Homo sapiens: one gene and its partners. The protein of the gene in region 1 purifies or fractionates together with the protein of each later gene. This does not show direct contact. Each region holds a gene or a part of one and is shown in the gene's direction. Other genes may lie near its edges.

What was found.
Region 2: the proteins of MBIP (region 1) and KAT2B purify together in Homo sapiens (affinity purification with mass spectrometry; 6 studies listed by BioGRID and IntAct, with this or other methods). This does not show direct contact.
Region 3: the proteins of MBIP (region 1) and ZZZ3 purify together in Homo sapiens (affinity purification with mass spectrometry; 6 studies listed by BioGRID and IntAct, with this or other methods). This does not show direct contact.
Region 4: the proteins of MBIP (region 1) and TP53RK purify together in Homo sapiens (affinity purification with mass spectrometry; 4 studies listed by BioGRID and IntAct, with this or other methods). This does not show direct contact.

Annotation. Positions count from the first base shown.
Region 1 is NC_000014.9:36,310,626-36,317,652, reverse strand, and holds part of MBIP (MAP3K12-binding inhibitory protein 1), read left to right. Parts: intron 1-840; coding exon 841-960; intron 961-2,737; coding exon 2,738-2,962; intron 2,963-3,044; coding exon 3,045-3,141; intron 3,142-5,628; coding exon 5,629-5,694; intron 5,695-5,927; coding exon 5,928-6,080; intron 6,081-7,027. UniProt on the Homo sapiens protein: Inhibits the MAP3K12 activity to induce the activation of the JNK/SAPK pathway. Component of the ATAC complex, a complex with histone acetyltransferase activity on histones H3 and H4.
Region 2 is NC_000003.12:20,043,421-20,050,447, forward strand, and holds part of KAT2B (histone acetyltransferase KAT2B), read left to right. Parts: intron 1-7,027. UniProt on the Homo sapiens protein: Functions as a histone acetyltransferase (HAT) to promote transcriptional activation. Has significant histone acetyltransferase activity with core histones (H3 and H4), and also with nucleosome core particles.
Region 3 is NC_000001.11:77,574,640-77,581,666, reverse strand, and holds part of ZZZ3 (ZZ-type zinc finger-containing protein 3), read left to right. Parts: intron 1-597; coding exon 598-669; intron 670-2,038; coding exon 2,039-2,140; intron 2,141-2,797; coding exon 2,798-2,893; intron 2,894-5,446; coding exon 5,447-5,599; intron 5,600-7,027.
Region 4 is NC_000020.11:46,686,419-46,693,664, reverse strand, and holds the start of TP53RK (EKC/KEOPS complex subunit TP53RK), read left to right. Parts: upstream 1-4,220; 5' UTR 4,221-4,250; coding exon 4,251-4,533; intron 4,534-6,433; coding exon 6,434-6,912; 3' UTR 6,913-7,246.

The DNA of each region.
Region 1 (7,027 bases):
GTAAAATTTTCACTCATTTTGATAATAATCTTATATTCAGGTTCTTGGTAGTTTTCTGGATATGATTTTATTCTATTAGATCACCAACTGATAGAAATTTCCATATAATGAGCTGTCACATCTTAGCATTTACAAAAGATCTGGACATTTCATCCAGTCTGACAACTTATTTCACTGTGGTGGAGAAGTCTTTGTTTTTCAGCTTCAGACTTCCATTGCTAAATAATAGTTTTTTATTTGAAATAAACATGTTGCCATTTATCCCTACACTTTATATGTATGAATAATCTTGACTTTTAAATTAGTTTAAAAATCGGTTAAAAGTTAAAAAACTAAAAATGTGATTTGGAGGACATCAGAATAATGATATATTTCTGATATGTATTTGTGTACATACTTAAAGAGAAAGATGCATGTTAAAACTTTCACAAAACACTTGTACTTCCTCTGTTTAAGGCTCTGAGCTAGAAGTAGTAGGATTCTGAATAGGGCAAGCCTATATTGGACTCCATCCAAAGGTTTGTATATATTGAAGTATCAAAAGAGCCTTCATCTTTTCATCTTTCATGAATGGTTTTACCTCTAAAATGGTCCCATTACACAGACCTAAGAATAGAATTTGAACGACATGTCATTTTGTTTTTGTTTTTTTATGAAAATCTGTAGCTTTCTTGGCCTTTTGAAATGGTAACTGGGTAGAGCATTTCAGTGTATTATTAAAAACTTGATAACTTAGAGCAAAATAGACCCGTTACTCTAGAAATCTTATTTTTGTGACAATTCCATATGTAGAGCTTAATCGTGTAATTTTTGTGATGTTGCTGGTTTGCCCCTTTGAAGCTTGACCTCAGAGATGATGTGGTGAAAATTACAATCGATTGGAACAAGCTCCAGAGCCTCTCGGCATTCCAGCCTGCATTGCTCTTTAGTGCACTTGAACAACACATTTTATATTTACAGGTAAATTTCTTGTTAGAAATGATAACCCGATATTGAAAATAGAAATTGATTGTGGTTAAGTTAGTTGGAGTATTTGACAGTTCTAAACACTATATTAATAGTGTTGCTAATAAAACGTTATTTACATCCGGATTTAATCTAAATCTGTTAATTTCAGTAGTGATCAGGACAGTTAAGGGAATATAGCCCAAAAGACCAATGTGGGTATGAGTGAATGAATGCAATTCTATTCAATTCTAGACCTGCACTGAAAATTCAATACAGTTCCATCTATGGTGGGTTATAATTAAGCAATAAGACACGGCAGGTGTGTGTCATGCTATGATAATGATTCCATGCCTTGGGTGAGTTTGGAGGCTCATGGAGTGCTTTCAGTGGTTCAAGAAGGGGCATTATCCCAGCATGACACATCCTGGAGTGTCTATTGCAATTAAACAGTTTCAGCATAGTTTTTAAAAAGAAAGTAATTTCTATGACATTAATGTCTCATCTTAGTAAGTAGCCAGTCACTATTTTATCATTTCTTTTCCTTAACAGTTTGAAATAATTCATTCTTTATATTAGAAGTTAATATTGAATTGGTATTTATAATAGTGTTGTTATATTTTTAAATATTTCATGTTAATAACTGAACAGTATTATGACCTTGCTGGTTTCTAATTGAACATCTTTGCAATTATAATTGATGTAAGTTTGCAGTTTATCTCTAATCAAAGTGTAAAATGTGAAGTGTCAAAAAGATAAGTGGAAAAACTGGATTGGTCAGTTTACTGTGATTAAGGTGTTATAAGATTTCAAAAGAGTAGTATAGCGAACAATGGAAGCAAAATTGTAGGTATGAAAAAAATAATTGGAACGTTATTAGTGTTAGTGTGTTTTGACTAATGGAATAGGCATTAATTTTCAGCCCTCCATTCATTGACTTTGTGGGAAATTTTAACTGTTTCATGTTAAAAGTAATAGTTAACCCTGTTTTTAAAGGGCAGAGCAGTGAGCTCTAGAACTCAAATGAGACCTCATTGTGGGGAGTGGGGGAGGGGAACAGTAAATGAGTAATATAGTTTAAATTCTACAACAGGGGTTTTCCCCCTGTAGTATAGTGATAGGCCTCTGCCTGTTTTCAGCTATAGATCTTTTTTTTTTCTTGTTCGTTTTCTTTTTTAAAATTTAATTTTATGACCAAAAGATATCTTGCCATGTCAGGAAAAGTCTGAGTGTTCACTCAGCCTAACACCTATATATTTCATGTCTATGCTTCCTCATTCACATTGGCCAACTGCAGTTTCAAGTGGAGAATCTCCAGTGATACAGTGATAATGCAGGGCTTTGCTGAGTGAGAGCACTAGCTCTCGTGTTAAGGAGGAAAAATACTAAGCCTTAGTGTTCTGAGGAGGCATTTGAATGACATGTTAATTAAGTGGCATTGGTGCCAGAGGCTGAAGGCTTTGATTTGGCACAAAATAAAAGATGAGTGACAGAATGATTCTCTCAAAGAAAATTTTAAATTTCCTTAGGTTTTCTTTTCTTTTTTCTTTTCTTTTTTCCTCTCTCCTTTTTTAAAAAACAAATTTATAGCAAATGATAATGGTTACAATAGCAGAGAATAGTGAGTACTTATATGTGGTCAGATCTATGTGTCCTGGTATACCAACTTTTTATATTTATTAACTGATATTAAGTATTTCATTTACTTAGCAGAAATTTATGTAAATATATTAAGTGTGTAATTAATTTTGGTCAGATTGAACCTCAGCAGATGGAATTGTGTTGTTCTCAGCCTTTTTTAGCAAAACTTCAGTCTCCGATTAAAGAGGAGAATACAACTGCTGTTGAAGAGATAGGAAGAACAGAAATGGGGAACAAAAATGAAGTAAATGACAAATTTTCCATTGGCGACCTACAAGAGGAAGAAAAGCACAAAGAAAGTGATTTAAGAGATGTGAAAAAGACACAGATCCATTTTGATCCAGAAGTAGTTCAGATAAAGGCTGGAAAAGCAGAAGTAAGAAGGTTTTTTGGCGGGGGCGAGAGGGTATTATTTTAAAAAATCTTATGTTTACACTGTTAAAACTTGTTGTTTGTAGATTGACAGACGAATATCTGCATTTATTGAAAGAAAGCAAGCTGAAATCAATGAAAACAACGTCAGGGAATTTTGCAATGTTATTGATTGTAATCAAGGTAACTACCTGGAAATTAATTTTCATAGGGTTTTAAGCACAATTTTTATAGTTGCTCTAATCTTTTATTTATTTTTTAAATGAATAGCTTTTAGAACACAATTCAATTTATTTCATGGATTTAGTTAGTAATTAAGACAGTAGAGTTTCCTTCTGCTTAATAATAGACTATATTGCAAACTGGTTTTCATTTTGGTTACACAAAGTAAATGCTAACATTAAAAAGTGTTTATCACAGGTGAAGATTATTTTAAAGTTCCTTTAGGAAATGAAGGTGAGGTACGAGTGAGAAGGTTGATCTATCTCACTAGTAAAAGGAACTGAGCTCTATGAATTTCAAACCTATACATGTACTGTGAAATCATGATGTTAATACGTAAGTGAACTTAGTAAAGTTAATATTCCTCCAGAGGGAGCAGTTTTCTCACTACTCCTGAGCTGTTTGAAATGTCCTGTGTCACGATACAACCAATTTATCATGAAGACCATGGTGTCTTGCTTTTTTCCTTTCTGCCATAGTGCATACATTTGCTGTTTTTCATCTGATTCACCTTTACCTCTCTACTTGATGCTATAGTACATTTACAAATCTGCAAGTATGCTGCAGAATACAAAATATTGCAATGCAGTGCCATAGATTATACTCAGGCACCATAGTAATAATCAGAACAAGTAGTTCTTAGGAAAAATTATGGAGAAGAGTTCATAATTGGAATGAACATGTTTCTTGTTGCCTCTAATATCTCATGGCTAATTATTATGAACATAGAATTGTCAGATGAACCTAGAAATGACTCATATCACATTGGTACACTGATTCTCTTAATGAAATAATATAGGCTGGTATTGGGTCCTGAATTTAGCTGTGTGCTACTATTAACATTACACATGTGCATCTCTAAATTTGGTATATTTTCCTGTTAGCTTTTCAGAACAGGTGCAACAATGGCAAAATCTCAGGTACTACAACCAACTACAAGCGACTATGAGAAAGGGTTTGTTGAGAGAGCAAGCACATGTGTCACTAATGTTATTCCTCTGTTCTCCCTGCTAACTCTATTATTATAAACCACCAGGGGATAGAAATTGACGAGAATTGAAATGCTCAGCAGGATTCCTTGGCCCATTCAATTCTTTGCTGGCTCAAAACAGTGCTAGCAAGAATTGCTGTGGAGAGTGACTAGCAGTCATACACTCACACCATGCTGAATTTCTCACTGATGGTCAGTTAATCTATATGTTTGGAATATAGTTCTGGAATGGATGATAGCTTCTTTTTTTAACCCTTAGCCCCATGAAATGGTAGGAAGAGAATGGAGAAAGGATGGCCCTTTAAGCATATTTTGAGGTGCCTCCAAAAAAAAAAAAAAGGAGGAAAGATGTCTATTTAGTCTCTAGATATAAAAGCTAAGTGGATTTGGAATTTTATGCATACTATTTGATTTATCAACAGAACTACTAAGGAAAGTTCAACTGAAAAAAATACAAATGTATTTTAATATGTTAGTGTGTTCCTTTTAATACCTACAAATTTAACCTAACTATAAGCAGTGGAATTTTTAAAAATCAAATTTCATAGGGGGGAAAAAATAATTTTTTTTAAAGAATCTCATTTACCAGCCATTTTTTACAAAATATTCAGGGGAATTTTACAGGAGATTTACTGCCAATGTGTGGCCTTTAAACATTATTTCAAACATAAGTATATATTATTACTATGTAGTATCGTATGTTAATATATAACAATTATGTTAATTAGTTGTATTATATGTTAACATCTTTCCAATTTTCCCCTTTTGTAATTTATGCATTGATACTTAATTTGAAAGAAACTACTTTTCAGCTTGGAAAAAAATAGGGACAAATTTTCACAATAGACCTTTACTAAAATGAAACTTTTTTGAAAAGTGGTGGGATAAGAAGAAGTAGATGACTTTTGTGATGAAGGGTTTTTAAAATGAGCACTGGAAATCTAGGTAGAGTGGAAATGTATGTGTACTTGAGGTTTTGAGGTCATCTTTGTGTGGAGTTCTGAAATAAAAATGTTAAATAATTCTTTTTGTTGGATGTTCACTAATTTGGTCATTAAAATAAAAAATGCTGAATTAAAAGAATTCTAGTAAAAATGATGAGTTTTATTTCTACGATGAAGTAGAATTTAAATACTCTATGGTAGATTATTTTCTCCAGTGGCCCAAATAGTGACATTGGTTTTCAAAATTGTATCAATTTGTGCCACTTAATGTTGATGGCTTTTCTGTATATAAATCTGAACATTAGGTAAGAATATTAGATATTATGATAAATTTTGACAGGTAAAGAAGGTCACTAAATTCTATCCTATGTGTGATAGTAATTTATTGTTACTATTATTTATTAAAATTATTATGAGTAAAATGTTAATATGAATTATTGAAAGTTTATTAAAATCTCATACATTTGAAGGGAAGAATATATTTAAACTTATATTTATCTAAATTCTCCTTAGAAAATAGTTGTGCAAGAACTGATGCGATTTTTACCCCTTACCCCGGATTTAAAAGTCACGTAAAAGGTAAGTAACCACCACATGACATCTGAGTCACTGACAGAAGTCTAGATTATTAGCAAAATGGAATAGAAATAACTTTCCCATCTAAATTTTATTTTAAAACAAAAACATCTTGCCGTCCTTCATACTTGTGGTTAGATGGTCTTTATGAAAAAAATATAAAGTGCTGTTAAGGAATAAGAATTTCTGATTTTTGAAATACAAATGTATATAGGCTCAAAAGTTTCTTAATTTAGTTTCTAGAGTTGTGAATACATACGGACCACAGACTAGACCTGAAGGAATTCCAGGGTCAGGTCATAAACCTAACAGCATGCTTCGAGACTGTGGTAATCAGGCTGTAGAAGAACGACTACAAAATATTGAGGCCCACTTGCGGTTACAGACAGGTAAGCAAAGTGCTAAGTGGCACCTCATAATGAACCTTTGCAAATGGTTAAAAAATTGCAGTTCATTTAGTCACCAAATTTTCATTTAGCTCCTAACATTTCTTGAACAGTAAGTGCCAGTCACTCAGGAAGTGTTATGTGTATGTCAATTCACTTAAAAGGTCATAGTACCCTTTTGAGATGGTGGTGGTGTTATCACTGTACAGATAAATAAATTGAAGTTTAAAGAGCCCAAGCAAACATGCCTAAGATACTAAGTGACAACTCTAAAAAAAAAAGAAAAAAGAGATAGTCCAGTCTTGCCCAGGTTGTACTTGAACTCCTAGGCTCAAGTAATGCTCCTGCTTCAACCTCCTGTGTCAGTGGGACTACAATCATGTGTCACTACTGCACCCTGCTCAAACCCAAGTCCTCACTGGGTGCAGAGACTGAGTCTCCCTCTCCATTTAGTCACCATGTCTGTTGATTCTGTTTTCTAAATAAATATCTCTCAAATCTGCCCACTTCTGTCTTATCTCTACTGCTACTACTAGAGTTGAAGCCACTGTGATCTCTGGCTTGGACTGATGGAAGGATATTTACTGGTTTCTTTGCCACTGGACTCCTCTAGATCATCTCTACCCTGTGGCCAGATTGCTTTTTCTAAAGCTCAAATTTGATCTTGTTTCTTCCCAGCTAAAAATGTGGAGATTGGGATTGAAGGGGGTTTGTAATTTTAAATAGTATTGTCCACATCTGTAGTTCCAGCTACACCTCTGGGCTTCCCATCTCCCACTCGTTGTGCTGCTTTAGGATCTTTATACTCATGCCCTTCTGTCCATGCTTTTTCTTCCTAATCCTAGACCAGTGCAGATTCACCTTTTGTATAATCTTATATAGCACCTGGTATTCCCTGCTCCCCTTTAAAGCAGTTATCATGGTTCTGTTTGTTTAATGTCTGTCTCCTG
Region 2 (7,027 bases), on another chromosome or scaffold:
AACTACTTTCTTGGAGTAGTTGCGGACCCAGAGCAGGACAGTTCATAGACTGGGGCACTGGTAGGGTGGGATTGGCTTCCTGGAGGAAGTGTCAGTGGCTGCTAAGAACTCTTGGCAGGGCAGAGTGGGGTGGGGTGAAGCTTCTTGTAGTGGAGAAACTGAAAGCAGTTGTGGAAGCTTGGAGGTGGGCCAACTGAGCCAGACCTTTGTTGCCTAGGGCCACCGGCTGGGGTGCGTGGCCAAGAGGGCACTGAGGAGTGCAGGAATCTTAACCTGGAGAGTGACATTATCTCAGATTTGCTTTTTTTAAAAAAAAAAAAAATTTAACTGGACTTGATTGGGTACGAGGGAGTGTAAGAGAGCAAAATCTGTGGTTCTCTCTCAGCTTGTTTCTGCACTTAATATGAGCAAGCCCAAAAGGACAGATTGCTCTACCTTTGCCACAGGCCCCTTGGCAAGTTAGATTAGAGAGATTAGAGAATGAGGAGGGATCTAGAAAGAGATAAGGTAGTTCACTGGGGGGCTTTTGAAAGAAAAACAGGTCCCAGGCCTGATATAAATCTGGCCTTTAAACTTCACAAACGAAACCAAAAAAGAAGGGAGCTAAGTCAGCCAGGGTGACGTGCCACACCCCAGAGAATAGAAAAAGAAAAAAAAAAAAGAAAAAAGAAAAGAAACAAACAAACTTGTTTCGCAGGATCCAGATCTTTGAACTGTGTCCTGGTAAAGGTTGCTTCAGAGTCATTTTGGTTCTGTGTTCATTAAAAATGTAGATCTAGGCCAGGCGCAGTGGCTCAGACCTGTAATCCCAGCACTTTGGGAGGCCGAGGCGGGAGGATCACTTGAGTCCAGGAATTTGAGGCCATCCTGGGCAATATAGTGAGACTTCGTCTCTACAAAAAATAAAAAATTAACCAGGCGTGGTGGCAGAGGTTGCAGTGAGCTGTGATTGCACCGCTGTACTCCAGCCTGGGTGACAGAGCAAGATTCTCCCTAAAAAAAAAAATAAATAAATAAATAAAATAAAGTAGATCTGACCATGTTATACCCACACTTCAGGCCCTTTAATTTCTCTTTATTGTGGTCCACAAGGCCCTGCATGGCCTGGCTACTGCTATCTGTGGCTCCTTATCGAGGGTTCAGGCACATGGTTTCCTTTCACCTAGTCGGGGGTGAGGTGGGGTGAGGGGCTTTGCACATGCTGTTCACTGGGACTGGAAGCTCTTCTTTCCACATTTTAAAATTAACTCCCAACCCTTCCTATAGAACTCAGATTCCTTGCCTTTCCTTTACCCCCCTGAGCAGCCTTCCCATTAGAAATTATCCAAATTCATCTGTACTCTTCCTGGTGCTTATATTATGATTTTTATGATTTGTATGATTATTTGATGTGCATTTAGAATCTTTGAATAGATTCTTAGCCATGCGGTTATTGACTAAGCGAATGAACCAGAGAAGAGAAAATGGAAGAAATGATTAGCTGTGATGTTAGCAGTTGTGGAATTTTAACTTAATCACTTCTTGACAACTAAGTAGAGATTTGTCATATAGGACAGTTCTAGGTGTCCCACAGATATTGATAGGATTGGGTTATTTATTTATTTATTTTTTTGAGACAGGGTCTCGCTCTGTCACCCTGGCAGGAGTACAGTGGCGTGATCTTGGCTCACTGCAACCTGTACCTCCCAGGCTCAAGTGATCCTTCCACCTTAGCCTCCTGAGTAGCTGAGACCACAGGCATGCACCACCATACTTGGCTAATTTTTGTATTTTTTTTGGTAGAGATGGGGTTTCGCCATGTTTGCCAGGCTGGTTTCCAACTCCTGGGCTCAAGCAATCTGCCTGCCTCCACCTCCCAAAGCGCTGGGATTACAGGTGTGAGCCACTGCACCTGGCCTATTTATTTATTTATTTATTTATTTATTTATTTATTTATTTATTTATTTTAGAGACAGGGTCTTGCTCTGTTGCCCAGGATGGGGTACACTGGCACGATCATAGCTCACTGCAGCCTTGAACTCCTTGACTCAGGTGATCCTCCCACCTCAGCCTCTTGGGTAGCTGGGACTATAGGCCTGCACCACCATGCCTGCTTGGGATTGGGTTTTTAATGTTATAAAAGAAACCCCAAGTGAATGTATGAGTAGGCCAAATCCAAATCTTCTTGAATTAAAGTATATCATCTACTAACTTCAAAAGAGAAACAAAACCCATTGACTAACCCTTCCTAAAGGAGCAGGCCATTTATATTAATACGTAAGAGGAGGCAATAGGGTATAGTGGCTAAGAACATGGGCTTCAGAGTTCAGGCTAATCTGAATTCAAATTTTGGGATATCCAGCTCTGCAACCTTGGATAAGGATTTCATTTAAGCCTTTATTTCCCTGTCTGTAAAGGAATGATGTTACCCGCCTCATGGCATAACAGTGAGGATTTAAAATGGGCTGTATTAGACATCCAGCATGGTGTCTTGCCCATGGCAAGCCCTCAGAAGGTAGGGGAGACGCTGTTAACTTGAAAGTCAAGTAAGAGCAACAGACTCAGTCCTGAATCCACCCCAGCTCTGCCACTTGTGTGATCTTAGGCACAGGTCACTTAGTTTTTCTCTGAGCCTCAATGACTGCATGTATAAAGTGGTGATCATGACTTCAACCTTAAAGTTAAAAGAAAAAAGTGTCCCCAGAATTCCTAGAACATAAAGATGCTAGGTTAATGCTGGCTAAATAAACGGAATTGCCTGGTGCTTTACTCGTATATCAGAGTCAGTGGCCACAAAGCATTTATGGAGAACCCAGTTGCTTGGGTTCTCGGCAAGGTGCCACATTTAAGGAGTTTCATGGGTACAGGACTATAAAATTAGTCTTAATTGAAAAAATAGGCCCAGGGCATGGTGGCTTGTGCCTGTAATCCCAGCAGTTTGGGTGGCCAAGGCAGACGGATCACTTGAGCTCACGAGTTCGAGACCAGCCTGGGCAACATGGTGAAACCCTGTCTCTACAAAAATTACGAAAATTAGCCGGGCATGATGGTGCGTGCCTGTAGTCCCTAGCTACTCAGGAGGTTGAGGTGGGAGGATGGCTTGAGCCTGGGAGGCAGAAGTTACAGTGAGCTGAGATCATGCCACTGCACTAGACCTTGTCTCAAAATAATAATAATAATGATTTATAATCTAGAAGTAGCACTGGTTGTAGAATATACAGAGAGCAGAGGTAGATGTGCCACCACAAAACAAAAAGCATCCTCTGTTGGCTAAGGGCTGGTGGGTGGGGCACTAGAACAAGCCTTATAGTTGGAGAGCGCCCCCAACACCTTTGTATTTGTCAGTCACTCCCCCAGAGAGCAAATTGTCTTTTTCATTTGTCAGCATTTAGAGCAGTGGCTCTCACCCAGGAGCTATTTAACCTCCCAAGGGACATTTGACAATGTCTGGAGACATTTTCAATCTTTGCAGTTGGGAGGAGGGAATGCAACTGGCAACTAGTGAGTGGAGGCCAGTAATGTTGCTATACATCCCACAATGCACAGGACAACTCCCCCCAACGAATGATTATCTGGTCCAAAATATTAATAGAATTAACAGAAGTTGAGAAAGCCTGTTTTAGACAAATACCTTTGCAGCACAGAAAGAAAAAACATCAATGGTTTTTGTTTTGCCCCCCCCTTTTTTTTTTCTGAGGCTTTTTTGAGGCAGGGTCTTACTCTGCTTCCCAGGCTGGAGTGCAGTGGGCTCAGGTGGTCCTCCCACCCTAGTCTCCCAAGTAGCTGGGAGGCTACTTGGCCAGGCGCACGTCACCATGGCCGGCTAATTTTTGTATTTTTTATAGAGATGTTTCGCCAACCTGGGTTTCGCCATGTTTAACAGGCTGGTCTTGAACTCCTGGGCTCAAGCAATTGGCCTGCCTTGGCCTTCCAAAGTGCTGGGATTACAGGCATGAACCACCACGCCTAGCCTAAACCAATGCTTTTAATATGAATATGACTAACACTTAAAATCTGAAAAATCTCACTTCGTGAATCATGGGCATATATTTTAAACAGCTTTATTGCGGTATAATTTATAGATCATAAAACTTGCCCACTGTAACTATGCTGCTTTTGAGTTAATGTATGCAGTTGTGCATCCATCACCACAACCCAGTGTTATGACTTCTTCCATCCCCGAAAGTTTCCTCTTGCCGTGAGTACCTTTTTTTTTTTTTTTTTTTGAGACGGAGCCTCACTCTGTCACCCAGGCTGGAGTGGAGTGCAGTGGTGTGATCTCAGTTTACTGCAGCCTCCACCTCCCGGGTTCAAGCAATTTGCCTGCCTCAGCCTCCTGAGTAGCTGGGATTACAGGCAAGTGCCACCATGCCCTGTTAAATTTTTTTGTATTTTTAGTAGAGACGGGGTTTCACCATGTTGGCCAGGCTGGTCTCAAACTCCTGACCTCAAGTGATCTGTCTGCCTGCGCCTCCTGAAGTGCTGGGATTACAGGCATGAGCCACCACACAAGGCCCATGAATACCTTTTTAAAGTGATATTTTGTATCAAATTGGTTGTTGGTTTGCAAACAGAAACTAAATTAGAAATATCTTTTTGGCAAGGCTTCAGATAGGCAATATTGTCACAGCAAAGTACAAAGCATGGAGGGAGGTGGATAAGATGTTGTTTTAAAAGATCAGTCTTTAGCCACATAAGTTTATTGCATACAATTGTATCCTGTGGTGACTTCTCTAAAATGCGGTAAGTGTCATAAAGCCAAGCATACAAAGGAAAAAATGTTTCATTTGGCAGGCACAATACAAAAAGCCTGAGAGAAAGATGTCCAAATTTAATTCTGTATCCTCAGAAATTTTCAGGGAAGATGGAAATTCAAGCCTGCAAAGCCTTCAGATTGCAATTTGTAGTTTTATATAACTGAGAAAGTGTTTTACAGGGCAAAACAGCAAAATCTGCTGAGGACTGTTTTGTTTTAGGAAGTGTGTGCTTGGAAATAGCGATTTGTGATATAGCGCTGTTTAAGGTTTTTGTTTTGTTTTGTTTTTAAAAATCATCTGGCAGATTTAAACCCAGTTGCCTCGGTGTTAGCCAGATTTAATTCTGCGGTTGTTAAGTAAATCCATAGGGTCTGATCCATCATGGTGACTATGGAGGGTGAAATATAAACTTTCCTGTAAGATGCCTGGGAGCAGTCAGCACATCTGCTTCTCAGATGAATACTCCGTGTAGTGCCAATAAAATTAGGATTTTCAAGGCTCAGTGGCTTCTGATTTAGTTAGTCTGTCGTTAAGAGAAAAGTGGCTATTTAGGAAAAATTGTCAACAGTTTCCTACTCTTGCATGCTGCTTTTCTGCTGTGGTCATCTGATTCAAACGGGGAATTAGAACAGGCACATTGGCTACTCACACATGGGGAGAGAAGGAGGGGAATCCTTGCTTCTTTCCCTCTATGCTGGGTGCCTTTGGGCAGCGCCCCCCTTTTCTTTTTTTTGAGACGGAGTCTTGCTCTGTCGCCAGGCTGGAGTGCAGTGGCGTGCACTGCAACCTCCACCTCCCAGGTTGAAGTGATTCTCCTGCCTCAGCCTTCCGAGTAGTTGAGACTACAGGCCCCCGCCACCACGCCCGGCTAATTTTTGTATTTTTAGTAGAGACGGGGTTTCACCATGTTGCCCAAGATGGTCTCGATTTCTTGACCTCGTGATCCGCCCACCTTGGCCTCTCAAAGTGCCGGGATTACAGGTGTGAGCCACCGCGCCTGGCCGGGCATCGCCTTAACTGCCTAGTTTCAGTTTCCTCCTTGGTGAAGTAGGAGTCCAGGTGCCACCTCATTGACTTATTGTGAAGATTAAATACTTCAGGATATATGAAAGTTCTTGGAACCTAGGCATTCCACAAATGTCTATTTAATTTTATTTGTAAAAAACGTTCCATTGGTATTAGCAGTTTGTGTGTTTGCCAAAGTGTTATGTCTCACGACATTTGATTCTTCTACCCGGGGAAAGTGGAAGGTAAGGGAGTTCATTTTACTAGCAGGGAACTGAGACTCAAAGAGGTTAAGTGACTTCTTCAAGCTACAGTGGTTACTCATGAAAGCGTCTGCCCAAGTAGATCCTCTTTCCTATGCACCATTTTGCCTCCTCTTCCAAAACTTTCGCATGGGGTAGAGGGGGTCGCTTTTCTTCCAAATGGTTTCTTGAGAGGATTACATTTGTTTTAGGCATTCTGCTGTCGTTTGAAATTTATTGTACTCCAATTGAGAGGTATGTTCAAAGGATTTTCTAGTCCATTGAACCTGTGCAGGCCATAAAGTAAACAAAATAAGCATTCTTTATTACTGGCCCAGGACAGACATATACATGCTCTTGATTGTTTTAAAGTTGACAATCAAGACTGGTCACTGTGCTGGCCCAATAGAATTCTCTGTTGAAGAAAGATGAAAGAGACACCTACTCAGGCTATAGAAGGTGCCAAATGTGTCAGAAAGTTAAGAAATTGACTGTCTTGAAAGTTTAGAAGTCCAGCTGGGCACCGTGGCTCCCCCTTGTAATCCCAGCATTTTGGGAGGCTGAGGCAGGCGGATCGCTTGAGCTCAGGAGTTCGAGACCAGCCTGGGCAACACGGTGAGACCCGGTCTCTACTAAAAATACAAATATTAGCAGGGCGTGGTGGCTTGCACCTATAGTCCCAGCTACTCAGAAGGCTGAGGTGGGACGACTGCTTGAGCCCAGGAGGCAGAGATTGCAGTGAGCTGAGATCATACCACTGCACTCTAGCCTGGGCAATGGAGTGAGACCCTGTCTCAAAAAAAAAAAAAAAAGATTTAGAAGTCCCCCAACCAGTTTATATAAGACGGTTCACACAACAGTATCTCAACATGATAAAAAGGAGTCATTAAAAAAAACTTTTAGTTGCATTACACATAAAGGGCTCAAATCATGTTTATAGCGCAATTAATTTTTACATGTGTATACATCTATGCAACTGCCACCTAGATAAAGCTGTAGGACATTTTCAGCATCTCAGAGGGTTCTCTTGTGCCTCCTCCCCAC
Region 3 (7,027 bases), on another chromosome or scaffold:
AAGGAGATAAGAACTTTGAAATTAAGAGAAACTTAGGTTGGAGTCCTAACTTACTAGCCGTGAACCTTCAGACATCATTTACGTTGAAGTCTCTAAGCTGCAGTTTCCTTTTGTATAAAATGTAGTTGATATTACCTATCTTGTAGGGTTGTTGGTGAGGGTTAAATAGGTAGTATATGCAATGTGCCTAGTACAGTATCCGACACATAGTATTTACTCTAAAAATAGTAGTTCCTTTGTGTGTAGTGAAATGTGACCAGGATTTGAGTCCTGGCCTTGCCACTCTTAGTTAGATGAACCTCAGTGGACATGTTACTTTTCAATTCTGAGCCCACATTTCCTTTCCCTTTTTTAAAAAATGAAGTTACAGTACTATTATGTATTTCACAGGATTGCTGAGAGTATAAAACCAAACAAAATAAAATAATGTGAAGGCATTTTGTAAACAGTTAAAAAAAAAGCATATACATTAAAAAACAAATTTACTCAAATATTTTGAAATTAATTTAAAAATTCCACAATTTGCGTGTTATTTGGCTATATCAAAGGATAGGTGTTGTTATTTTCTCTCTGACAAAAGCCTTGTCTTATGTGCAGATGATAAGAGGACGCTTGTGTGATGATACCAAACCTGAAACATTTAACCAGTTGTGGACTGTTGAAGAACAGGTAATAAATATTTCAAAATCGTGTAGGCTTAAAAAAACAAGTAAACAGTTAACATCAGAGTCAGTATTATGAGGCCAGGTCCAGTGGCTCACGCCTGTAATCCCAGCACTTTGGGAGGCTGATATGGGTGGATCACTTGAAGTCAGGAGTTCAAGACCAACCTGGCCAACATGGTGAAACCCTACTAAAAATACAAAAATTAGCCGGGTGTGATGGCGTGTGCATATATAATCCCAGCTACTCGGGAGGCTGAGGCAGGAGAATTGCTTGAACCCAGGAGGCAGAGGTTGCATTGAGCCAGGATCATGCCACTGCACTCCAGGCTGGGCAACAGAGTGAGACTCCATCTCAAAAAGAAAAGAGCCTGTATTTTGAGTCAGGTGTATATTGTTGTATGTGATGCCTGTTAGCCATGAGTTTTAAATATTTAGGCTTATTTTTGTATACCTTTTTGCATACGTCAAGAATTTTGGATTTTGAGAATGTGTAAACTTTTGTTTGGGGATAATTTTAAAAGAAGGAACCTGGGTTTTGAGAGGGGAGTAGAAGTGGATAGAATAAAATAGATGTTTTTGTAATGTAGCTTTGGGAGAGAGAAAAACCTGAGGCCAGTAAAGCTGAGCTTCAAAGTGCATTCTTATTTTTGTTGTCGAAGGGAGGTGAGGAAGTCAAGTCAGTTTTGGCATACAGTTTAGAATTGTTTTTTGGCTAATGGCTAGGGTTGTTAGTGGGTGAAGTTTGAGGCACATCTTTGTCTCATATGGCTATTAACCCCACAGCTATACATTTAACAGTTTATAAAAAGCTTTGGGAAATCTATTTATTTCAAGCATCCAGATTTTTCTGCATCTTTAGGACTATGAGAAGATACAGGAGACAAGAAGGAATATTAAAATCAAATATTTGAATAAAGGACCATACAAAAGAAGGAAAAGCCTCTTTTAATAGTCGAAATTTAAGTGAATTTACACGTTTTTGTTAAAACTGTAGGGGAAAGAAAAGTAAGAAAAGATTGACCATCTTTTCTTGGATTTCAGTGGATTTAGTGATTTCAGTGGAAATCACTAAAATGTGTAATCTACCAATTTGTTTACTTATTTTCTGTTTTCTTATGAGATATTTTTACTTATGTGAATAGAAAACTTTTCTAAGCTCTTTCATAAGTTTATTCTCTAATTTCATTGTTCCCTGTGAAGTCTTAAGTTTCTAACTAGAAATTTTTCCTACCATGAGGATTTCTAATTACGTAACCCCCAAAGGTGGGAGAGAGTATTACATTTTGAAATGAAATGTGAATGTATTTATTTAGAAATCCAATATTTAAAATTAAATACATATTTTCTTAAATTTGGTCTTGGGTATGGCTTAGAAAAAGCTGGAACAGCTACTCATCAAATACCCTCCTGAAGAAGTAGAATCTCGACGCTGGCAGAAGATAGCAGATGAATTGGGCAACAGGACAGCAAAACAGGTAATTGAGGAGATGACTGCAGATTGCTGGTATGCTTTTGGTAGTTTTTTAATAAAGGAGAATAATGCAGCTGACATTGGGCGATCTGCCATAACACTTTCAGCTACAGAGTGCTGTAGTATGTGGTGTTTTTTTAAAAAAATTGTATATATTTTCGTTGATTTCAGAAACAACTTGAGATACTTCTGCTTTGGATCATTACGAAATATTAAAAAATGAACATATAATGGACTTAATTTCTCTTGAATGCTTACTAAATATACTAATTGTATACTTTTTGGTTATACTGAGCAAACAGATTTGTTTCATTGCCTTAGTGTTTCCTGGTTGTCTTTCTAAAAATGTATCTTGCAGTTTACTCCTTCATATTCCCATCTATATTAATAGATGTGTTTTTATACTACAAATGTAAGTGTTCACAAGTTGAAATATGTGTTTAGCTTTAGAATCAAATTTAAATTTACTTGAATAATTTTTGTTTGGCCTAGATTTTAAAATATATGTGTATTTGGTGGCAGTTTATTGTTAATTCTAGATTCATGATGAGTATTGAATTCTTAGCATTCATTAGATACTCATGTACGTTTTAATTTTTAAAAACGACTCAGGTATTGTATGTCATCTCATTGTGTTAAGAGACTTGTCATGTTTCCTTAGGTTGCCAGCCGAGTACAGAAGTATTTCATAAAGCTAACTAAAGCTGGCATTCCAGTACCAGGCAGAACACCAAACTTATATATATACTCCAAAAAGGTAAAAGAAAATACATGAAAGTAAACTGTAGATTAAATTTATTAAAGTAAGAATTGCTATGTAAAAATCTACACATTTGACAGAATAGTGTTGTATTTTAAAACTTCTGTTCATTCTAAGCATTTCCTTATATTGTGCAAAAGTGGAGGGTAAGGACTCCATTATTGCTGCTCAGTGAAATTCATGATTCTTCATTATTTTCTTTGGAGTAATGTGAATGAGTGCTACTTGAAAGATTTTAGATTCAAAATATGTTAGAAAGGCCTTTGTGAGGGTAAAGTTTTTAGGATATTTGATTATTTAATAAATCAATCATTTAATAAATTTAATAGATCAATTTCTGTTTTGTAGATAATGCTACATAAATCCAAGAATAGAAAGGTTTATTATGATATTCTAAAGCCAGGCACAGTGGTGTGCACCTGTTGTCCCAGCTACTTGGGAGGCTGAGGCACGAGGAACACTTGAGGCCAGGAGTTTGAGTCCAACTTAGGCAACATAGTGAGGTCCCGTATCTTTAAAAAAATAAAATATTGTATTTAATCCTTTCTACAATTCTTGAAATATAAGTAGTCTTATCATCTTCACTTTACTGACATAATATTAATAGCTAGCTGTTATATTGAGGGCTCTGAGCCAGACTCTACTGTTCTATAACCTTTTATTTGGTAAGGAAACTGGGCCCTCAGGTATGTTGAGTGAATTATCTAGTTGCTTAGCTGCTAAGTCTGGGAACCACTGATTCTCTCCCATTCTGATGCCACACTTTTTCCACTTTTCTCTGTTGCTTTCTACAGTGGAGAAGCTACTGTTTCTTTCCCAAACAGGACACTACATTAAAATGTAGCCAGTTTCGGCCGGGCACGGTGGCTCACGCCTGTAATCCCAGCACTTTGGGAGGCCGAGGCGGGTGGATCACGAGGTCAGGAGTTCAAGACCAGCCTGGCCAATATGGTGAAACCCCGTCTCTACTAAGAATACAAAAATTAGCCGGGTGTGGTGGCACGCACCTGCAGTCCCAGCTGTTCGTTCTTGTAATCGCAAAAAATAAAGACACCTAATTGGCTGTTTTAAATTTTCTTAATAAGTTATCCTGTTACTTTTCCCTCCCCACCACTGACATCTTTCTCATAAAGAGAAGCTAAGAGTATATCTAGTGCTGTTATCCTTCCATACTGAAGCTATTTCATGTAATTTTACATTAAGAATATTGTCTATACAGTTTCATGTTTTACACATTAAAAAAAAATTTTTTTTAACCGAGCTTTGGAAGCTTGTTTTAATTTGCCAATTGTTTTAAATATTTTGGGTTTCCCACCAAATATAGCACAACCTGTGTAGATTTGTAGAGTTCATCCTATAACTGTGGAATATTGGAACCTTACATTAACCTGTGTTTAATGTAAGAGCTCTTATTTTCATGGTTAATTTCTAAGCTAATTTTATAGATGTAACCATGTTTTCATCATTAACACTGGATAATGATAACAAAAGGAATACTGGAGAACGTACATGTGTTTTTTTCCCTTAGGTGTACTGTATTTTGGCTGTGAAGATCTAGTACAGCTATATTTACAATGATTGCTTGCCATTGTTAGAGTTTAAATTTGGAAACAGGTGAAATGATGGTTCTTCATGTAGCTGAGGGTGTTCTTTGTGACTGTGCTATTGATCAAGACAGGCAGGCTGCATAGTGGTGGAAAGTGAGAATTTGGGCACCACATAGGCCTAGTTTATAATCCTGGTTCTACCACTATCTAGCTGCAACACACTGAACAAGAAACTTAACCTCCCTGTCCTCAGTTTTCTCATTTTTAAATTAGAGGTGATGATAACTACGTTATAGGAATGTTGTAAGGATTAAATGACATTGGCATAGAGCAAGCTTGTCCAACCCATGACCCACGTACCACATGTGGCCCACGACAGCTTTGAATGTGGCCCAACACAAATTGGTAAACTTTCTTAAAACATTACAAGAAATTTTTTTTTTGTTGTTTTTTTGTTTTTTTTTTTAGTGTGAGTGTATTTTATGTGTGGCCCAAGACAATTCTTCCAATGTAGCCCGGGGAAGCCAAAGATTGGACAACCCTGGCATAGAATAAGCAGTCAATCAATGTTAGATAAGTATTTTCAGATATTCATAATGTTATAGAAATTTTCCTTTTACTTTTTACTGGATAGTTTTATGTCTGGCATAGGCCACTTCATCCTGTCTGATCTTCTATAAGATGATCATAAGAATTCAGTGCAGCCAGCATTTGACTGCCAAGAGTATGATAAATGCTGGGGATACAAATATAAGCTAGATATTAAACATGTGGTCCATTTTACCGTTGTTGGGGTATTTCCCCTACATTTAAAAAAAATTTTTTAAAGCTAGTTATGCTTTAAAAACGCAGAAAACAGAAAAAGCAACAACATAAGAGTATGCTAAAGGATAGAGTGAAATTCTTCTGATAGACTTGTTGGAAGTAACATTTGTATTTTTATATTTTTGATTCTTGTAATGATTTTTCACTGAACCAATTAAAAATTTGTTTTCTTACTTAGTCTTCAACAAGCAGACGACAGCACCCTCTTAATAAGCATCTCTTTAAGCCTTCCACTTTCATGACTTCACATGAACCGCCAGTGTATATGGATGAAGATGATGACCGATCTTGTTTTCATAGCCACATGAACACTGCTGTTGAAGATGCATCAGTAAGTTATACACATCAAGTTGTTATATACATCAAGGTATAGAAGAGAGTAGGATTTTCTAATTATTTCCACTCTTCAGAGAATGTTGGTTTCTTTTAATGAACAAGTCAAATGTATAGTTTTTAAGTAATGTACTTTTGTGAGGAAAATTTCAAACATATACAAAAATAGAATAGTATAATGAACCTTAACAATTATCAACATGAAGCTACCTTATTTTAATCTCTACTCCCTACCCACCTCAACTCTGCTCTGGATTATTTTGGAGCAAGTCCCAGATATTACACAATATAATTATCATGTTTATAAAAGGTAATTTGTTATACAGTGAAATATATAGTCACTGTTCATGATTTTTTTTCTAATTTCTTCATTTGGGTTTGGATCCAAATAAAGCCCATAAATCACAATAGGTTCATTCTCCCTCTTTCACTTTCCTTTTTTCCCTCTCCCAATGTTTTTGTTGAAGAACTGGTTCATTTGTCTTATAGAATTTTGCAGTATGGATTTTATTGATTACATCTTCTTGTCATTTAATCTGTTCCTCTGTTTTCTGAACTTCCTGTAAATTCATAGTAGGTCAAGAGCATTGATGAGATTCAGATGTATTTGTTTGTTAGGGTGGGCAGGACTACTTCACGTTTACTTTCATCAGCCTGGTTGTCTCTTTTTTTGGCATAACAGCCACTGATCATTGACTAAATTGATTAATTCATTAGATGTTACAGAATAGTGATTATGCTATCATTTCTTCATTTACTTGCTGGACTATTCTAAAAGTAATCCCCCTGCCCCCTAGTCAACTATTTGGTTACTCTGAGGTACATATAGAAAAGGTGGGATAATTGCTCAATTCTCCCTTTTTTTTCTTTTTCTTTCTTTTTTAGGCAGAGTCTCGCTCTGTCGCCCAGGCAGGAGTGCAGTGGTGCAATCTCGGCTCACTGCAGCCTCTGCCTCCCAGGTTCAAGTGATTCTCCTGCCTCAGGCACCTGAGTAGCTGAGACTACAGGCATGTGCCACCATGCCCGGCTAGTTTTTGTATTTTCAGTAGAGGCGGGGGTTCACTATGTTGGCCAGGATATTCTCGATGTCCTGACCTCGTGATCTGCCTGCCTCGGCCTCCCAAAGTGCTGAGATTATAGGCGTGAGCCACCATGCCTGGCCTGTTTTCTGGTTTTTAAAATAATGAGTTCATTTTCTCATATCCTTCAAAGATGACCAATGAGGTTTAAAAATTTTTTGTATTCTTATGAACTATTGGCCCTAAATGTATTTAATGTATTTCAATTCATTGATGTTACTGCCTTTGTTAGTGTTCAAAGTGGCCCATCTTTGGTTTGTTGTAGCCTATTTAAGTTGGCTTATAAGTTCTTTTGATAAGACTCTAATAGTGTTTAATAGCTTAATACCCATTTTTAACAAGGAAAA
Region 4 (7,246 bases), on another chromosome or scaffold:
CCACTCTACTACACATAGGGTAACCATATATTGTATCATCCAAACTAGAATGCTTTTGAGAGTAAAAAGGGGACACTAGCCTGGGCGCAGTGGCTCACGCCTGTAATCCCAGCACTTTGGGAGGCCGAGGCAGGTGGATCACTTGAGGTCAGGAGTTTGAGACCAGCCTATCCAACACGGTGAAACCCCATCTCTACTAAAAATACAAAAAAATTAGTTGGGCATGGTGGCATACACCTATAGTCCCAGCTACTCAGGAGGCTGAGGCCTGAGAATCACTTGAACCTGGGAGGTTGAGGTTGCAGTGAGCCAAGATCATGCCACTGCACTCCAGCCTGGGCAACAGAGTGAGACTCCTTCTCAAAAAAAAGGCGGGGGCACTAATAATAGTTATGCCAGGGCAACAGGCAAAAACTGGGGCTGTCCCTGGCAAGCCCAGATGCACGTCATCCTTCCCATCCCCCTTCCTGCTGGATTTATCTCCTGCTAGCCCCTGTCAATGACACATTTTCCTTATTTGTTTATTGCTGGTTTCCACCCACTAGAATGTAAACTCCATGAGGGCAGTAATAATTATTCTCTATTTTGTTTACAGCTCTGTCCCCAGGGCCTAGCACAGTACCTGGCCTATAGTAGTCACTCAATAAATATTTATTAAATTAATTGGTGAATAAATCACTGAATGGGCATCTGGTGCTGGTGGGTGGGAAGTGAAGAAGAGGCCATAGGTTCTCTTTCAGGCTCAGAAAGGGCTAAAAAGTAGACCCCTCCCTCCCCTTTACTGCTTGGCTGTTCTACCCAGAGCTCAGCTGCATATTTTGCAGCCAGAGGTCAAGGCCCCAAAGGGCCATGCTTGGTGTAGTCACCCCAGGCTCACAGCACCTCTCCTCCAGCAAGAGAAATCCTTTGGGACCAGGCCACTGTCCTTGTTCTTTCAGCTCCCAGCCTGTCCCCAGTGCCAACCTGCCAGCAGCCATGTGGAGCTGCTGGTCCTTGTCCAACCCAATCCTACCCTGTGTCTGTTCTCACTGCCTGGAACCTGAGCACCCTCCCTCTCCACCCCCTGACTGAGCGTTCCAGCACCTGAGAATCTCAATGAAGATGAAGATATGGGAAAATGAGACATGAATTTGACTGAAGCATAAATAGGCACAAAACTTTGGGAGGGTAGTTTGGCTGAGGAGTCGAGTTTCAAAGTGCTTGTCACCTACAACCCAGCAATATCACCTGTAGAAAGATGTCCTCAGAAACATTCATGTGTGCAAAGATGGCTGGATAAGCCTGCTCACTGCAGCACTGTTTATAAGAGACAACAAAACAAAAAAAAATGAAACAAAACTGGAGAAGTAACATTGTTAAAATGTCCTACAGATTCCATGTAATTCTTATCAATATTCCAATGACATTTTTGTAGAAATAAAAAATTCTAAAATTTATATAGAATCATAATAGACTCCATATAGTCAAAGCAATCTTGAGCAAAAAGAACAAAGCTGGAGGCATCATATTGCCTGACTTCAAAATATACTACAAAGTTATTGTAATCAAAACAGCATGTCACTGGCATAAAAACAGGCACATAGACCAATGGAACAGAATAGAGAGCCCAGAAATAAATCCACGCACTATAGTCAATTGAGTTTCATCAAACATGCCAAGAACGCGTAATGGAGAAAGGACAGTCTTTTCTATAAATGGTGTTGGGACAACTGGATATTCATGTGAAAGAATTTAGACTCTTATCTTACATCATATGCAAAAATCAACTCAAAATGGATTAGACTTAAATGTAAGAGCCAAAACTATAAAACTCTTATAAGAAAACAGGGACAAAATGTCATGGCATTGGCCTGAGCAACGATTTTTTGTGTAGGACTCTCAAAACACAGGCAGCAAAAGTGAAAATAGACAAATGGAATTGCATCAAACTAAAACGTTTCTGCACAGTCAAGAAAAAAGAAAAAAAAAGAGTGAAAAGACAAACTACAGAATGGGAGAAAATTTTTGCAAACCATACATCTGATGAGGGGTTAATATCCAAATATATAAGGAATACAATCCAATAGTAAGAAAGGACAAAACCTGAATTAAAAGTAGGCAAAAGATCCAAAGAAATCTTTCTCAAAAGAAGACATAAAAATGGACAACGGGTATATTAAAAAAAAATGCTCAACATCACTAATCATCAGCGAAATGCAAATTAAACCCACAATGAGATATCACCTCTGACCTGTTAGAATCGCTATTTTAAAACATAAGAAAGATAATAAGTGTTGGCAAGGATGTGGAGAAAAGGGAACCGTTGCACCCTGTTGATAGGAATGTAAATTAGTACAGACATTATGGACAACAGTATGGAGGTTCTTCAAAAAAAATAAAAATAGAACTACCTTATGATCCAGCAACCCTACTACTGGGTACATATCCAAAGGAAACAAAATCAGTATATTGAAGAGATGTCTGCAGTCCCATGTTAATTGCAGCATCATTCACAATTCTCAATCTGAGTGTCCATCACTAAATGAATGGATAAAAATATGGTACATTTATATACACAATGGGATACTATTCAGCCTTTAAAAAGAATGGAATGCTGTCATTTACAGCAACATGGATGGAACAGGAGGATATTGTGTTAAATGAAATAAGCTAGGCACAGAAAGACAAATATCCCATGATCTCACTTATATGAGGAAGGTAAGAAAAGTTGAACTCATGCAAGCAGAGTAGAATGGTGGTTACCAGGCGGTGGGGTAGGGGGAGGGAGATAGGGAGGATTTTGAGAAGTTGGTCAAAGGATACAAAATTTCAGTTAGATAGGAGGAAACATTCATGAAATCTATTGCACGACATGGTGACTATAGATAATAACAATGGGTTGTATTCTTGAAAAATGCTAAGATAATAGATTTTAAGTGTCCTCACCCCCGAAATGATCAGTATGTTAGGTAACGTTAACTAGCTGGATTTAGCCATTCCACAATGTATACATATTTCAAAACATGTTACTTACGATAAACACGTACAATTTTTACTTTTCCTTATGTACGTCTTCATCTGGCTGTTCATTTTTATCTTTTATACTATCTTTTATAATAAACTGGCAATAGTAAGTAAAGTGTTTTCCTGAGAAACAACAAACTGGAAACAACTGTTTAGCAACAAGAAACTGCCTGACCAGGTAGAAGGACGTGGTAGCTCTGTATGTATTGATATGGAATATAGTCTGAGATAAATTGTTTAGGAAAATGAAAAGCAAGTTGCCAAAGAACCCACAGTATGATGTCATTTATGTTGGAAAAAACGCCACAACGATGTGTGAGTGTGCACACTGAATGAAAGAAAATTCTGGAAAGAAACTAACGGCCAGCAGTGTCACAAGGGGGATAGGTAGTTTATTTATTTATGTGTGCGTGTGCAAAGTTCCGTATTGTAAGAATTTGCTACAGCCTGTGTTATTATAAGCTTTGTAATGAAACAGGTAGAAACTGAAAAAGTTTAATTATTCCCAATTCAGTTTAGGTTCTGTCTCCGGAAGACTTTCCCGGATTCCCCAGCCCCCACTCCCCACCCCATCTTACCACCCCCTCTGCCAGCTCTGAGTCTCAATTTTCTTTTCTGTAAGGATTTTCATCATTTAACCTTATTTCTTCTGAATGCACTAAATGGTAGTTATCCTAGCACTTAAGAGGATGTCGGAAACATGGTTCATTGTCTGACCCTTCCGACTCTGACTTGTATGAGCACATTTTGGGGGGAATGTAGGAGTCAGGGGAAGAGGAGTTCCAAAAAGAGACTACTAGAGGGTACAGCTGTCCCGGAAGAGACTTCTGAAGAGAGCAAAGCGCGTCCGACGTTTTTCTCGAGAGGCGCCGAAGTTTTCCGGAAAGAGACGACCAACTGAGAGGTGGGCCCCCAAAGCCGGCTGCGAGAGTCACCGAAGATTTCCGGAGAGCCAAGGAGTCGGGAAGAGCCACTTACTGAGCGTTGCCGAACGTGTACGGAGATAGCCGAAGAGGCGGAAGGCGGGGCCACAAGAGCCCTTCCTGCAGGGAACCTCAGGCTTCAGAGAGCCGAAAAGTTGGGAGGCGTAACCACTTACAGGCCGGAAGTGTCCGGGGTGGACGCATTCGGGTAGCCGAAGAAGTCCCAGGATTGCCGAAGAAGTCCCAGGATTTCCGAAGCGAGCCGAAGCATCGCGACAGTTTTCAGAGACAGCTGATCGGTTGGAGCTGTTGCGCCGAGCAGTCATGGCGGCGGCCAGAGCTACTACGCCGGCCGATGGCGAGGAGCCCGCCCCGGAGGCTGAGGCTCTGGCCGCAGCCCGGGAGCGGAGCAGCCGCTTCTTGAGCGGCCTGGAGCTGGTGAAGCAGGGTGCCGAGGCGCGCGTGTTCCGTGGCCGCTTCCAGGGCCGCGCGGCGGTGATCAAGCACCGCTTCCCCAAGGGCTACCGGCACCCGGCGCTGGAGGCGCGGCTTGGCAGACGGCGGACGGTGCAGGAGGCCCGGGCGCTCCTCCGCTGTCGCCGCGCTGGTAAGGTGGGCCGGGATCCCGGCGTGGGCGGCCCCGAGGCTCTGGGGCCTGGGCGGGTGAGGGACTCCCCTGCGCTCCGAAGCTGGATTTCCCTCAGTTTCTCCTTCTGTGCCTTCTGCGGTGTCCGGCCTTTCGGAAATGTTATTCTTTCATCCCTTTTTTCATTCGTTAAGTCTTAAGAAACCACGTGGCCATGCAGCGTCAAGCTTTTGTCCTGAGGCCGTTCTGCCTGGTTCAAATCTGGGATCTGTCATTATTGCTCAATGTTGAACATGTTTAACTTCCCTGAGCCTTGGTTTCCCCATTTGACTCGTTTCAATTTTCGATCATTATCTTTCCATTTATTAGTTTTAAGAAACATGTAATGACAAGTACTTGCCCCACTGGAGCCAGGCTCCCTGGGTTGAAATACTAACTCTGCTGCTTGTGTAGCCTTTCAACAAGTTATTTAGCCTCTCAGCCTCGGTTTTCTCACCTGTAAAATGGGAGACATAGTAGCAGTATCCATGTCATAGGGATGTTGTGACCATTAGAGGAGGTATGTGTGTCACGTATTATGTTCAAATGTGTGCCTGGCACATAGTGCCCAATAAATGTTGGATTTCATTAAATTGCCTATTTTTTCATTAAACATCATTGTGCGCCAGCACCATAAACTTTGTCCTCAGATGAGAAAGTGACACTCAGAGAGAAGTAACTTGCCCAAGGTTACACGGTTACTAAGTGGCCGGTCCAGGCCCTCAGCTCCTTATGCCTCTGACTCAGAAGCCCTGGCTTTTTACTTTTACGCTTCTTGCCTTTCTTTTATCAGTATTTTTTAGGTACCAGTGGGTACCAGGACATTGTTAAGTGCTGGGAGATCTGGGTGGGGGATATTCAGTAGCCAACAAGCGGACACATTGCTGCCCTTTCAGAGACTTAAGATTTCATGAAGTTATTTGTGTATTCATATTTCTGTTTTCAGCCTCATGATCTGTTTCGTTAAGCAGAGATTGTATTATAGCTGGCTTGTTTATTGCTGTATCCCCATTGATAACATCTCTCAGTTTCTAGAAAAGTATACTGAGCCTGGTTGACTTTCAGTAAAGATTCATTGAGTTTATTGGAGCTATTGTTCCTTGTATAGTAGCAGAAACTGAGGCTTAGAGAAGTTAATGTAATTTTAAGATTAGATTAGACAACTAATAAGAAAAGCAGCTGGGATTTGAACCCTGTCCTCTCTGACTACGAAGATGAACCTCGAAGCTAGCACACTGCTTGGCCTCCTGTTTGTGTCCTCATCAGTAGAAACTGCTCTGACTGGGCTGTGCCTTGCTCTTTGTTTTTGTTTTTTGAGACAGTGTCTCACTTTGTCACCCAGGCTGGAGTGGTGCAGTGGCACAATCTCAGCTCACTGCAACTTACGCTCCCTGAGTTCAAGCTATTCTCCTGCCTCAGCCTCCCGAGTAGCTGGGACTACAGGCGTGAGCCACCACACCTGGCTAATTTTTGTATTTTTAGTAGAGATGGGGGTCTCGAACTTCTGACCTCAAGTGATCCGCCTGCCTCCGCCTCCCAAAGTGCTGGGATTACAGGCATGAGCCACCACACCCGGCCTTTGTTTTGTTTGTTTTTTAGAGAGTGAGTGTGACAAATGAAGTCCAGTGAGAAAGGGTGGTTTGGAAGGGAGGAGGAAGCTATGGCCTCCTCAGTTTAGCTGTGGGGTGTTCCCAGGCATAGTCCTGCAGTGGGCATGAGCAGGGGAATATTCCAGATGAGTTCAGTTGTACCATTTCCTGTAGCATTCCTCAATAGTCCTGAAATAAGTAGATATAGATGGAAAAACTGGCTTAATCTTTGAAAATTAAGTTTACCCGTTAAAAAAAATCCAACCCAATAACCACTTATGTCTTGATTTCAGGAATATCTGCCCCAGTTGTCTTTTTTGTGGACTATGCTTCCAACTGCTTATATATGGAAGAAATTGAAGGCTCAGTGACTGTTCGAGATTATATTCAGTCCACTATGGAGACTGAAAAAACTCCCCAGGGTCTCTCCAACTTAGCCAAGACAATTGGGCAGGTTTTGGCTCGAATGCACGATGAAGACCTCATTCATGGTGATCTCACCACCTCCAACATGCTCCTGAAACCCCCCCTGGAACAGCTGAACATTGTGCTCATAGACTTTGGGCTGAGTTTCATTTCAGCACTTCCAGAGGATAAGGGAGTAGACCTCTATGTCCTGGAGAAGGCCTTCCTCAGTACCCATCCCAACACTGAAACTGTGTTTGAAGCCTTTCTGAAGAGCTACTCCACCTCCTCCAAAAAGGCCAGGCCAGTGCTAAAAAAATTAGATGAAGTGCGCCTGAGAGGAAGAAAGAGGTCCATGGTTGGGTAGAAGAATGTGTATGACAACCACACACAGTGAAGCTCTTTTTTCAAAGTAAATTTGAAGAAATGCTACAAGTATGAGATGAGATCTAAGTAAAGGTGTTAAGATATTTTTAAGTGGTATGTGATCGTGTCATTATCATCTGCACTTCACTCAAGAGCTTACTATGTGTCTAAGTCATGTTCTAGGCAGAATTGGGTATTTAAAGTAAATTGAGGACAGGCTTCTCCCAGATTGTGACATGTATATCTCAGATACATGGGTGTGGCATTGAACCACATAATGAGAACATTATTCTCTTTTTAGTCCTTGTGAGACAAGGATGAAGTCTCAGTTGCTG